4 separate regions of the Homo sapiens genome follow, and all the other regions are linked to region 1. The links come from fine-mapping of genetic effects on gene expression. A gene starts in region 1. Each other region holds a variant in brackets. All regions are shown on one strand. Distances are between the middles of the regions.

Region 1 (2,678 bases):
CATTCATGTGTTCACTACAGAGGCGCCTTCACTTAAAAAGGCAAAAATCTAGGGTTTTAACGTTATTAGCTGCAGGAGCACGTGGAGATAAGAAAACCTGGCTGAGGAGCTGAGCATTTGCTAGGTGGCCTTAGGTGCCGGCTGCTTGTGATGGCAGAAAGGGAGCTTTTTGCATCCAGGCTGCAGTTCCTGATACCCTGGGTCACAAGAGAATCGAATATGGTTCTCTCGTGGGCTGGTGCTGGGCCTGTGAACTCAGATAAAATGACCAGGTGGGGTCCCAGGGAAGGTGAAGTAGGGGGAGCTGCTGGGGTGCGCACAAGAGGGGTGGCTGTGTAGGTTGGGGGGTGCTTTAAGTGGGTTCCTAGAAGAGGCTCTGTCTCCCTGGGCAGAAGAAAGAAGGGGGATGGGCGGACCGTCCCCTCTCTCCAGAAGGTTTGAGGACCCCCAAGGCCAAAGCCAGCAGACGTCAAAGGCCAGGAGTTCGAGGCCGGCTGGGTCCCGCAGTGGGAGACAGGGCAGGGTGGGCTCATCCTCCGGATCACCGCGGGGACACTTTCAGTCGGGAAGGCGTCCCCGTCCCACGGCCCCATCTGGCCAGCCCGCTGGACAGCCTGGACAGCGGAGGGGGCGTCAGGGGTCGAGGGTTCCAGTCCCCGTCCTTCCACCCAGCCCCCGGCCCTCGGGTATCCTTCTTTACCCGTCCGAGTCCGGCCCGGGGGCGGCGGGGGTGGGTGAGGCGCGGGCCCCCAGGCTCCGGCAGCCTGGCTGGGCTCCCGCCCGGGCACCCGCGGGGGCGCGGCTGGCGTGACGTCACGCGCCCCGCCCCCGCGCCCCGCCCCCTCCCCACATTCCAGGCGGGGCGGGCCGGGACCCCGCGGGGCTCGCCCGCCCCAGCCCCCTCCCCAGGGGCTGCCCCTCCCGTCGGGCCGCGCCTCCCCGTCGTGGGCCGCGACCCCGCCCGGACCGCGGACTCCGCCCGCGAGAGGCCGAAGCCGCCGCGGCCGCCGCCGTTGCCGCCATTGACGTCAGAGGGGCGGGCACATGACCCTGCGGGGACCAATCGCGCGGGCGCCCCGGGCTCCGGGAGCCCGGCGCGCGGCCCGCCCCGCCCGCGGCCACTCTCGCCCGGACGGCCGCGCGGACACACGCTCTGTACACACGCGCGCGGCGGCGCGGGGCCCCGAGACACGCCCGCCCCCACCCCGCCGCCCCCACCCCGGCGCCCGCCCTCCGCGCCTGGCCCCGGCCCGCCCTCGGCCTCCCCCGCCCCTCCCCGTCGCCCGCCGAGCCCGGTCAGCCGCCGCGAGCATGCACCCGACGAGCTAGGAGGAAGCCCGGAGCCCCGCAGGAAGCGCCGAGGCCGGCCCAGCCCGCCGCACGCGCCGCCCCCCGCGGGCAGCGCCCCCTCCCCTGCGGGCGCCCCCAGCCCCACACCCCCCCACCTTCCCGGGGGGTGGGGGGGTGCGGGCCGCCGGATCCGGGGGCCCCGCCGCCCCAGCAGCCCAGGACAGCCCCCTCTCCCCGCCCCCAGCCCCCTCCCCCGGCGCGGCCATGGATGTGACCAGCAGCTCGGGCGGCGGCGGCGACCCCCGGCAGATCGAGGAGACCAAGCCGCTGCTGGGGGGCGACGTGTCGGCCCCCGAAGGCACGAAGATGGGCGCCGTGCCCTGCCGCCGGGCTCTTCTGCTTTGCAACGGGATGAGGTACAAACTGCTGCAGGAGGGCGACATTCAGGTCTGTGTCATCCGGCACCCGCGGACCTTTCTCAGCAAGATCCTCACCTCGAAATTCCTGAGGCGCTGGGAGCCGCACCACCTAACGCTGGCCGACAACAGCCTGGCGTCCGCCACGGTGAGTGGCTCTGCGCGGCTGCACCCCCGCCTCTCCTCGGGGCCCGAGATGCGCCCTCCCTGGCTGCCCCCTGGCGCTGCACCTGGAGCCCAGGGCCTGGGGGGCGGTGGGGGGTGCCGGGGGAACGGGGAGAACCAGGGCGCCTCGCTCCTGGCCTGCTCGCGGGGCTCGATTTTGGAGTCTGAAGCCCAAACCAGCCGACCGGGCTCAGGAGAGACCCTTAAAATGCTGGAGACTCGGCCCACCGCCAGGCTGGGTGCCTGGGGACCTTCTGCCCCCAGCTCTTGTGTTTCTGGTGGCTGGGACTCGAGGATGGACCCGACGCTGGGCCCTGATGGTGGTGGGGGTTCTCTCTGGAAGCCCCTGGCCCATCTGGATCTGAGGGGTGGGGGAGGGGAAAACAAAATACCACCCCTCAGATTTAAAAAAAAAAACAAACAACACAACAAAACCTCCAAACCCCCAAACCCAAAGAATTTCCAGAAGCCAGTTTCTCTGTTTGGTTTACCCGTCCTTTATTCTCTTTCCTGCCAGGGCTGGCAGGCAGAACGGGGTGCTTCCCTTTCTGAAAATCTCATTCGCACATTGAGAGGTTGGAAGTGGAGGGGGAGGGGGCAGTGGTCCTGGAATATCTCAGGACCCAGCGGTGGTCGAGTTCTAGCCTAGAAGCTGCTTGGTGGAGCCCTGGTCCGGCATTGTCTGTAGAGTGTGTGTATACGTGTGTGTTTTGTTGCTGGAGGTTTAATTTTGTTATTGTTTTTAAATACATGGGTAGGACTGGGTCAGCTGGATGAGTCGGAGAGGAAAAACCATTGATCTGTTTC
Region 2 (2,678 bases), 29 kb after region 1:
CGTCTATAAGATGAGATTAGCAGCAGTGTTTATGACCTGGAATTGTGGTCAGGATTCCATGAGAGGATGTATGAACCAACTTGAGAGCAAGGCTCAGAACCCCAGAAGTGCTTCGTGAAGATGAGCTGTTCGTATTTCCAGTGTCCTTCATGGTGGCTCATCTGGCCGCCCGTTCTGGTATCCTGTGTGTGGCGTGCCCCATGCGTGGAGGAGTGGCCCATCTCCCCAGGGGTCCCCTGGGTCTTGTAGGCACTGATCACAGCCACTCACTTGACACCGTTGAGTGTCAGCTACATGCCATGCCCTGTCCTAGGGTGCCCCAACATGGGCCCTGCTCTCAGGAACCTGAGCATTCACTGGGGGTGGCACCCGCAAATGTGTCAGCCAATCACCAGAGCCCCTTCAGAGGTGGCAGGTGCTAGGACAGTAGAGGGGCAGGGTGAAGGGGTGGAGAGATGGGAGGCCCCTCAGGAGGTGGCCTGGAGGCAGGAGCTGATCCTGTGCAGATGTGGAGAGGCCGTTGGGATGGTGAGTGCAGAGGCCCTGGGGTGGCTGAGGTGCACAGTGGGGTGTGGAGGCTGGAGGGACATCCAGGGGCACATCGTGGCATCTGTGGTGATCTGCAGCCTGCGCCCAGTACTTTGTCCTGTTCCTTTCGGGGCTTGGCCACACCGCAGCTGCCCAGTGAGTGTGTGAGGGGCTGGTCTGTTTAACTGCTTGCCCTGAAGGTGCGAGGAGAGCCTGTTCGCCTTGCATCCAGTGGGCCAAGCTTACATAGATCCCATCTCCTCTGCATACCCTCAGCATCCTGATCTATAAAATGGGAGTGAATATAGCACCTTCAGCCACACCACCAGCCTGCCTGCGGCCCCTGCCTCCTGCCCGGCCTCCTCTGAGGTCAGTGCCTTCAGCTCCTGCTGCACTGGTGGCCACCGCCTGCAAGTGCTTATGTCGGCCTCTGTCTCTGCAGGACGACGTGAACAGGCTGCGGCTGTCACTGACGTGTCTTCCTTCGTGTTTGCCGTGGGGGGCATATAATTGCATTCCTCATGAGGGAATGACACAGAAAGGGCAGGGGGTGTCAGCAGGGGCCGCTCTGTAATTTCCATGTCTGGGACGGATTTCAGGACTGAGCTGTTTTCCTCTTTGACCCGGCAGAGGCTGTTGCCCAAGTCAACAGTGGTGCG[T/C]TTTTGAATTTGTCTTTGTTGGTTTTCTTTTTCCCTTTCTTCTTCTTTTTAAAATAGGTCTTTTTTTTTTTTTTTCCATCCTATGAAATAAAACTGGAGACTTGGTTGTAGTGGGTAAGAATTAGCAGTTCCTGTCCTTTTGGTGTGGGAGTTGGGCGGGGGTTGACTTAAATATTTATTTCCCATTAAGGGATTCATGGGCTTGGACGCTTGTGTTGGAATGGGGTGATCTCAAATCTCACTCATGATTTTCGACCCCTGTAGGACTTGGGCCTGCCTTTGGGGGACGCGGGGACGCAGGGACGCATTGAGCAGAAGCTGCAAGCGGATGACCCATGGGCCAAGTCAAGTCTGCTGACGTGTTTTACTTGGCCCACACAGTGGTTTTTTTTTTTTTTTTTTTTCTTAAAGCTTCAGTAAGTTGTCTGCCTTTAAAGTTGGGAGCATTCCCCTAAAAAGTTCCGGATATCCATTTTCTAATAATAACAACAGAAGCAAACATTTCTATGTGACTTACCACAGGCCTGGCTCAGCTCTAGACGACTCCCATCCCTTTGCTCCTGGGATCCCCAGACAGTTCCGAGGTGGTGCTTCCTGTGATCATCCCCATTCTACAGCTAAAGAAGCAGAGGCAGGCCTTTAACCGGGCACTCCTGGCTGTGCCCATGTTCCTGTGTGGCCACCCCTTCAGGCTGGGCACGGCCTCTCCACTCCCCCAGCCTCCTAGCCCACTGTACTCAGGTTCCCCCCTGCTCAGAGCTTGTGGGCGTGGACTTTGTACCCCCCGGGCTTGGAGAGGGCAAGGTGACTGTGGGAGTCCAGCTGCTGCTCCTTAAGTTGAGTTGTCTGTCACTGACTTACCCTCCCTCCCTCTCTCCCTACTGTCTCCATTCTTCTCTTTCCCCCTTCTTTCTCCTGCACCCTCTTTTTCCATTCCTCCCTTCCCCCTTCCTTTCTCCGCTCTCTCTTTCCTTCACTCCCTTCCTCCCATTCATCTGGTGCTTACCGGGGGCCACCAGGTAGGCACGTCGCACACTACTTCTGCTTCATGTGAGGGGTTCATGGTGGCTTCTCCCTACCTTCAGACCACACCTCTGGTGGGAGGTGCTGCGTGAGGATCCCAGGGGTGAACTGAGTCAGGTCAGAGGAGCAGGGAGCCCCAGCCCCTGGTGTCTTCTTACTGTGTGGTCTCTTCCGTGTCACCGCACTTCTGTGGAAGGGGAATGATGGGGGAAGTGGAGGAACCACTGTCCGCCTGCGGAGGGGCCTCAGTGTTGGCCGTGCTCATGGCGCCCTCCTCCTGGGGCTCCCTCTCCTCTGGTCCTGCCTCTCCTGCACGCCCTTCCTGCCTCCTTGGTGCCAGGGGAGCCAGCCCAGGACAGTCTCTGTGCCTAGGCCCTGCCAGCCTGGCTGCCCTGCCTCCAGCCATGGGGGGCGGGCGGGGAGGGAGTCGACCAGTGCTTGTCTTTGCAGAACTGCTGGTGGACTGAA
Region 3 (2,678 bases), 270 kb after region 1:
ACCTATTTAAGACATGTTGACAAATTGCGGGTCTGGGACCCGCCTCTTATTTATGAAGTCTTTGACCGTCCCCCCCGCCCGACCCCACCGCCCTCCCGCCCCCACCTGGCGTGTAGTACTGTATAAACCAGTCAGCTGTCGGGTTAGTGGTAGTATTATTGTTATTTTTTTAAAGGAAACAAACAGACAACAAAAAGAAGAAAAAAAAAAAGAACCTCCTTGGAAAAATTAATTGCTTTTTCGTAATGGATTCTCTATGCTAATGCTCTCTCGTCTGTCTGTCTGTCTGCCCACTCCCCCACCCACCACTGTGCGTTTCTGATTTCCAAATGTCTCCAACTCCCTCACGAGGTGGGGCTCAGGCTGGAGGAGGAGGGATTAAGATCCCCTTGCTCCACTAAGGCCCAAGCTCTTTCTCTCGGCACCTTTTAGACTTGAATGGGAGGCTGCTAACCCGCCCTCTCCAGTCCACCCCGGTAAAAGAGCTGTTCCCCACCCCCAGGGAGCTCCTGTCCCTGTCAGCCTTTGCTGTCCCCTGTCCCCAACGGAGACTCTGTCACCCCTGGGCTCCCCCTGCCATCGTGTGCTTCACGTGGCCCCATGCATGCCCGCCTCTCTGCATGGTCTCTTGGGAAAAGAGAGATGTGTCGCCTCCGCCAGTCCGACTGCCCTCCCCACCCCACCCCCGCCACCCCCCACATGTGACCACTGCAACGAAGACACTCCTTCTGTCCCCACCTGCTCCGAAGACAAACCAACCTCCGTTTCTTTTATAAACAGTCGGCTTTTTCTTAATAAGCCCTCACTGTACAGAACAGCCCGTTGATGGTTTATTTGGGGTCCCCCTCTCCCCCCAGCCCTTTTTTCTGTTGGTTTAGCACAAATACTTCCCTCCTCCGGCACCTCCAAACCTACCCCACAGTCAGTGTACTTGTTTTATATATATTTAATCTTATTCAATGGAAACCATGCTTTTGTCGTTTTATACTTTGCTAGGTAGACTTTATTACCCCCCCACTATGCCCTCATTTTTTTAAAAAAGGAAAAAAAAAAGAAACTGGGTTCCAGTCTTAATTCATTTTCCGTGCCAGGTTTTATTTCGTGTGTGTGTGAGTGTGTTCTGTTTTGTGTTTTGTTTTTTGTTGTTGTTTT[T/C]AGTTGTTTGGTTTTCTTTTCTTTCCCCCCTCCGGTCCCATACTTCACAGCACTCTGGTGCGGGAAGAAGCAGAAGCAAAAAAAATAAAAATAAAAAAATAAATAAAAATAAAAAAAATAAAAAAGGAAAAAAAAAAAAGAAGAAACAAGACATGCCACCTTTCCCCTCGCACTGTTGCTTTTCCTGATGGTTAATACTACTGTCACGTAGCTGTGTACAAAGAGATGTGAAATACTTTCAGGCAAAAATAAACTGTAAGTGACTCATCAATGTCTGGCCTTTGTGTGGTTTCTCGGCGCCCAGCGGGAGAAGGTCCAAGGAGGGGGCGAAGCCCAGGCGGGAAATCTGAGGCTCAAGACAGTGCCGGGATGCCCTCGCCACCTTCTGTGCGCACTTCCTGAGGACCAGGGCTCAGCATCCTGGCTGCTGTTGGCCACTGGGGCCGGAGCTGTCTTCGTTGCAGGGGGGCTGTTGTGTTCATTGCCAGACATTGAACAGCATCCTTGGCTTCTACCCAGCAGTAGCACCCCTTCCCCATTTATGACAACCAGAGTGTCTCCAGATGTTGCCACGTGTCCCGTGGGGGGATAGTTCGCTCCCCAGCTGAGACTCCGTGTCATAGACTGAGGTCAGTGCTGCTGTTCAGCAGGGCCTTACGAAAGCTGTAGCCCAGAGCTACTCCAAGGAATGTGCCTTCCATCCACCTAGGGGGTCTTGTGAAAACGCAGATACTGACGCCATAGCGCTAGGTGGTGCCTGGGAATCTGCATTCCTGACGAGTTTCCAGGTGATGCTGTGCTGCTGGTCAATGCCAGGTTCCTAGACCCACACTTCAGCTGCCTCCTCCCCCTAGATGTCTCCAAGAGGCAATCTTGACAAGTCCAAAAATAAATGCTTTATCTTGGCCAGGCACGGTGGCTCACTCCTGTAATCCCAATACTTTGGGAGGCCGAGGCGGGTGGATCACAAGGTCAAGAGATCGAGACCATCCTGGCCAACATGGTGAAACCCTGTCTCTACTAAAAATACAAAAATTAGCTGGGCGTGGTGGCGTGTGCCTGTAGTCCCAGCTATTCGGGAGGCTGAGGCAGGAGAATCGCTTAAACCCGGGAGGCAGAGGTTGCAGCAAGCCGAGATTGCGCCTCTGCACTCTAGCCTGGCGACAGAGCAGGACTCCGTCTCAAAAAAAAAAAAGTAAAGAAAAAATGCTTTATCTTCACCCCTCTTCCTAAACCAGTCACCCTTCAGGGTCCCCCAGCTCAGCAGGGGTATCCTTGTCCTCAGCCCAGGCATGTCCTGCCTCCACATGCTGACAGAAATCCAGGATGTCCACGAGCCAGTCCTCTGCCTCTCCACCATGGGCCCGGCCCGAAACCAGCTCTCCAGAGACTCTGTGTCTGGAGTTGCCCCCTGCCAGCCCCCACCGTCCCCACACCATCCAGCTCCCTCTGCTACCTGCCCCACCTCTCTCTATGCCCTGGTGGCCTCCTTCCAGAGGCCTCTGCCAGGTCTTTTTAAGACAGGT
Region 4 (2,678 bases), 260 kb after region 1:
CCAAGAACACACACACCCAGCCCCACAGGTCACCCCTCACCTGCTGCTGCTCCTCTCTCTCCCTGCACGCTCCAAAGTCCCCAGAAGCCTGAGACTCCCAGAGCAACTGTCCCAAAGTCCCCAGAAGCCTGAGACTCCCAGAGCAACTGTCCCAAGGGAACCAAGGCAGAAGCCATGTCACTTTTTAACTTAGCCTCCCTTGGAAGGCAGGCGGCATCACTTCTGCCACATCCTCCTGCTGGCAGTGAGTCACCGCGGCCGGCCCTCAGTCAAAGCCGTGGGAGCTAGACTTCACCCCTCAGTGGGAAGAGCATCGAAGAGTTGGCAGGCGCAGCAAAGCCATGGGAGCTCCCGTGGAAATGAGAGTTCGGGCAGATGTGAGCCCTGGGGAAGAGGCAGCGGGAAGGTGGGAGCTGAGCAGGCTGTGGGGACATCCCGGGCGGAGGCTTGCTGGAGGCCAGGGTGGCTGGAACACAGGGAGCCAAGGGGCAAGAGGTCTGGGATGTGGCTGGATGGGCATGAAGAGCCTTCTGGGTACCTAGAGGTGCTGGGAAGGAGTTTGGATTTAATCTTGGCTGTCCTGTGACAGGGATTCGGAGGCCATGGGGGAGGGCTGAGCAGGGAGACAGGAGACAGGCAAGAGGCGCTGTGAGAAGCGTGGGCTGAGTGACCTGCTCCTTGGTGAGTGAGAAGTTCTAGAACTGAGCACCATGGCATGCACCTGTAGTTCCAGCAACTTGGGATGCTGAGGTAGGAGGATCACTTGAGCCCAGGAGGTTGAAACTAGCCTGGGCAACATAGCAAGACCTCATCTCAAAAAAAAAAAAAATCGTCATTGGAAAGGGAATGTCAGAGGCAGGGCTGTCAGGCGTGTTGACCCCCAGGCCGAAGAGCCACATGTGCAGTCATGAGGCCCTCTAGGAAGCTGTGTGGTAGATGGGCCCAGGGCTCTGAGCCATTCCGTGAGTTTGAGCACCTACTTCATGACAGCCACTGGGGAAGGAACTGGGGAGAGAGAGGTGTCTTAACTTCTGGCCTTTCCACCAGTGCTCAGGGGCCTGCAAACATCCCCCGGGGGCCTGCCCCATGTCCAGACACCGCAC[G/A]GTAAGCAGATGCCTGGGAGACTCCCATGTCCATTGACATTTGAACCTGGAGAACCTCAGTGCGTGGTCACTGGTGCTACCATTGTACAAGCAGGAAGTTGGGCAGGTGATTTGCCCAGGCTTACACAGCCGGGGCTGCAGAAAGGGGATAGTGGGGTTGCTGGTTTTCAAAACAAGGCCCTTGGGGTGCACAGAGTGTGCTGAGCTAGGGTGGCAGGCCGGGTCCGTAATGCACCCCTGCGGTTCTGGACAGATCCTGTGCTTGATGCTGGAATACAACATCATCGACAACAACGACACCCAACTGCAGATCATCTCAACCCTGGAGAGCACAGACGTGGGGAAGCGCATGTACGAGCAGCTGTGTGACCGGCAGCGGGAGCTGAAGGAGCTGGTGAGTCCCCGGCTGCTCCGGACCACTCCCCTGCCCAGCAGGCCAGGGGGGGCCAGGGCGGGATGCGGGGCAGCTAGTACTTGGACCTGAGTGGACCTCAATCTCGTTGAATTCTCCTCCAAACCCCAGAAATTGGTATTACCACCTGCCACTTTTCAGGTAATCAAAGAGAAGCAAAGCAATCCCCAGAGTCACACAGCTCATTGGGGCCTGGCCAGGACATTGCCCACCCTCCCTCCTCCATGTCCCTTAGACCCTTCCATTTCAGTACATGGGGGACCCAACTTCCAAATGCCAGCACCCACACCTCTTTGCTGAAGGACTTTGTATGTCCACATGCATATACTCACACATGTGTACACAGAAGGACGGAAGGGGCAGGAAATTCATGCCTTCTGATCTCCTGGAGCAGCCCTCAACCAGTCCCTTCTGGGGAGAGTGTGTAGAAATACCCCAGCTCCCTCACCCCTTCAGTGAGATATGTTTGAGACATGGCTTCTCCACCATTTCTTAGAGTCCCCCGGTGGGATTTGGTGCCAGTACCCACCCAGTGATAGCTGGATTGATAACACCCCTTCCATTATAGGTAGCCACAGTGTCACTTCCCCACTCTCCCACTGGTGTTTCTTGGGATCACCCTCCAGTAAACCACCTGTGCTCAAACCTCATCTCCGGGTTTGCCCCTGAGACCAAGACCACCGTGTTGCCTTGTACCACCAAGAAAATAACGATGGCTCCATGAGTGTTGTTAACAGAGGTGGAAGTCTAGAATGGAAACTTGGGGAAAAGAATGGTTGTAACCAGCCTGGTTTCTGTTGCAGCAAAGGAAAGGCGGGCCCACCAGGCTAACACTGCCCTCCAAGTCCACAGTGAGTTGGTTTGGTTCTCTTTGGGGCTGGATGGAGAAGGTGGGTTGGTCCTCTCTGTTGGGGAACGGCAGGTGGTGTCTGCTGCTGAGATGGGAGGTGATGGAGGGCGGGGCACAAGGACCCCCTAGTACTTAACACGCCAGCTCTTCCAGGAGGTAGCTGGGTTACAGGAAGAGAAATGAAAACCAAAAAGGAAGTTAAAATATGATACAGATTGTTGGTGATAATAGTGTTGATATCTAGTTATTAATAGTACTTGGAATAATAGCAGATATACCTTGAGCATTTGTGTGTCAGATGCTCTTCTATTAG

The links. PIP is the estimated chance that this variant, and not a neighbour inherited with it, causes the effect.
Region 2: its variant is fine-mapped to the expression of CMIP in whole blood (TOPMed, PIP above 0.99).
Region 3: its variant is fine-mapped to the expression of CMIP in whole blood (TOPMed, PIP above 0.99).
Region 4: its variant is fine-mapped to the expression of CMIP in whole blood (TOPMed, PIP above 0.99). The same link has a PIP of 0.9 or more in T cells, blood mononuclear cells, lung, sun-exposed skin, thyroid and tibial nerve.

The regions. Positions count from the first base shown.
Region 1 is chr16:81,443,688-81,446,365 of GRCh38, forward strand. CMIP (c-Maf inducing protein) reads left to right here and starts at 1,121. Exons shown (of 21, transcript NM_198390.3): 1 at 1,121-1,854. The coding sequence starts at 1,555. RefSeq lists enhancers at 1-494, 2,659-2,678 and silencers at 704-803, 914-1,263, 1,334-1,383, 1,814-2,113.
Region 2 is chr16:81,472,241-81,474,918 of GRCh38, forward strand. All of the region lies in intron 1 of CMIP (c-Maf inducing protein), which reads left to right. Among named protein-coding and RNA genes, the nearest start is that of CMIP, 29 kb to the left of the region's middle. The variant T/C (reference allele first, on the strand shown) is at 1,188.
Region 3 is chr16:81,710,340-81,713,017 of GRCh38, forward strand. CMIP (c-Maf inducing protein) reads left to right here. Exons shown (of 21, transcript NM_198390.3): 21 at 1-1,423. Among named protein-coding and RNA genes, the nearest start is that of PLCG2, 68 kb to the right of the region's middle. RefSeq lists enhancers at 1,200-1,882, 2,565-2,678. The variant T/C (reference allele first, on the strand shown) is at 1,153.
Region 4 is chr16:81,700,304-81,702,981 of GRCh38, forward strand. It overlaps CMIP (c-Maf inducing protein), which reads left to right. Exons shown (of 21, transcript NM_198390.3): 16 at 1,357-1,497; 17 at 2,319-2,366. Among named protein-coding and RNA genes, the nearest start is that of PLCG2, 78 kb to the right of the region's middle. The variant G/A (reference allele first, on the strand shown) is at 1,104.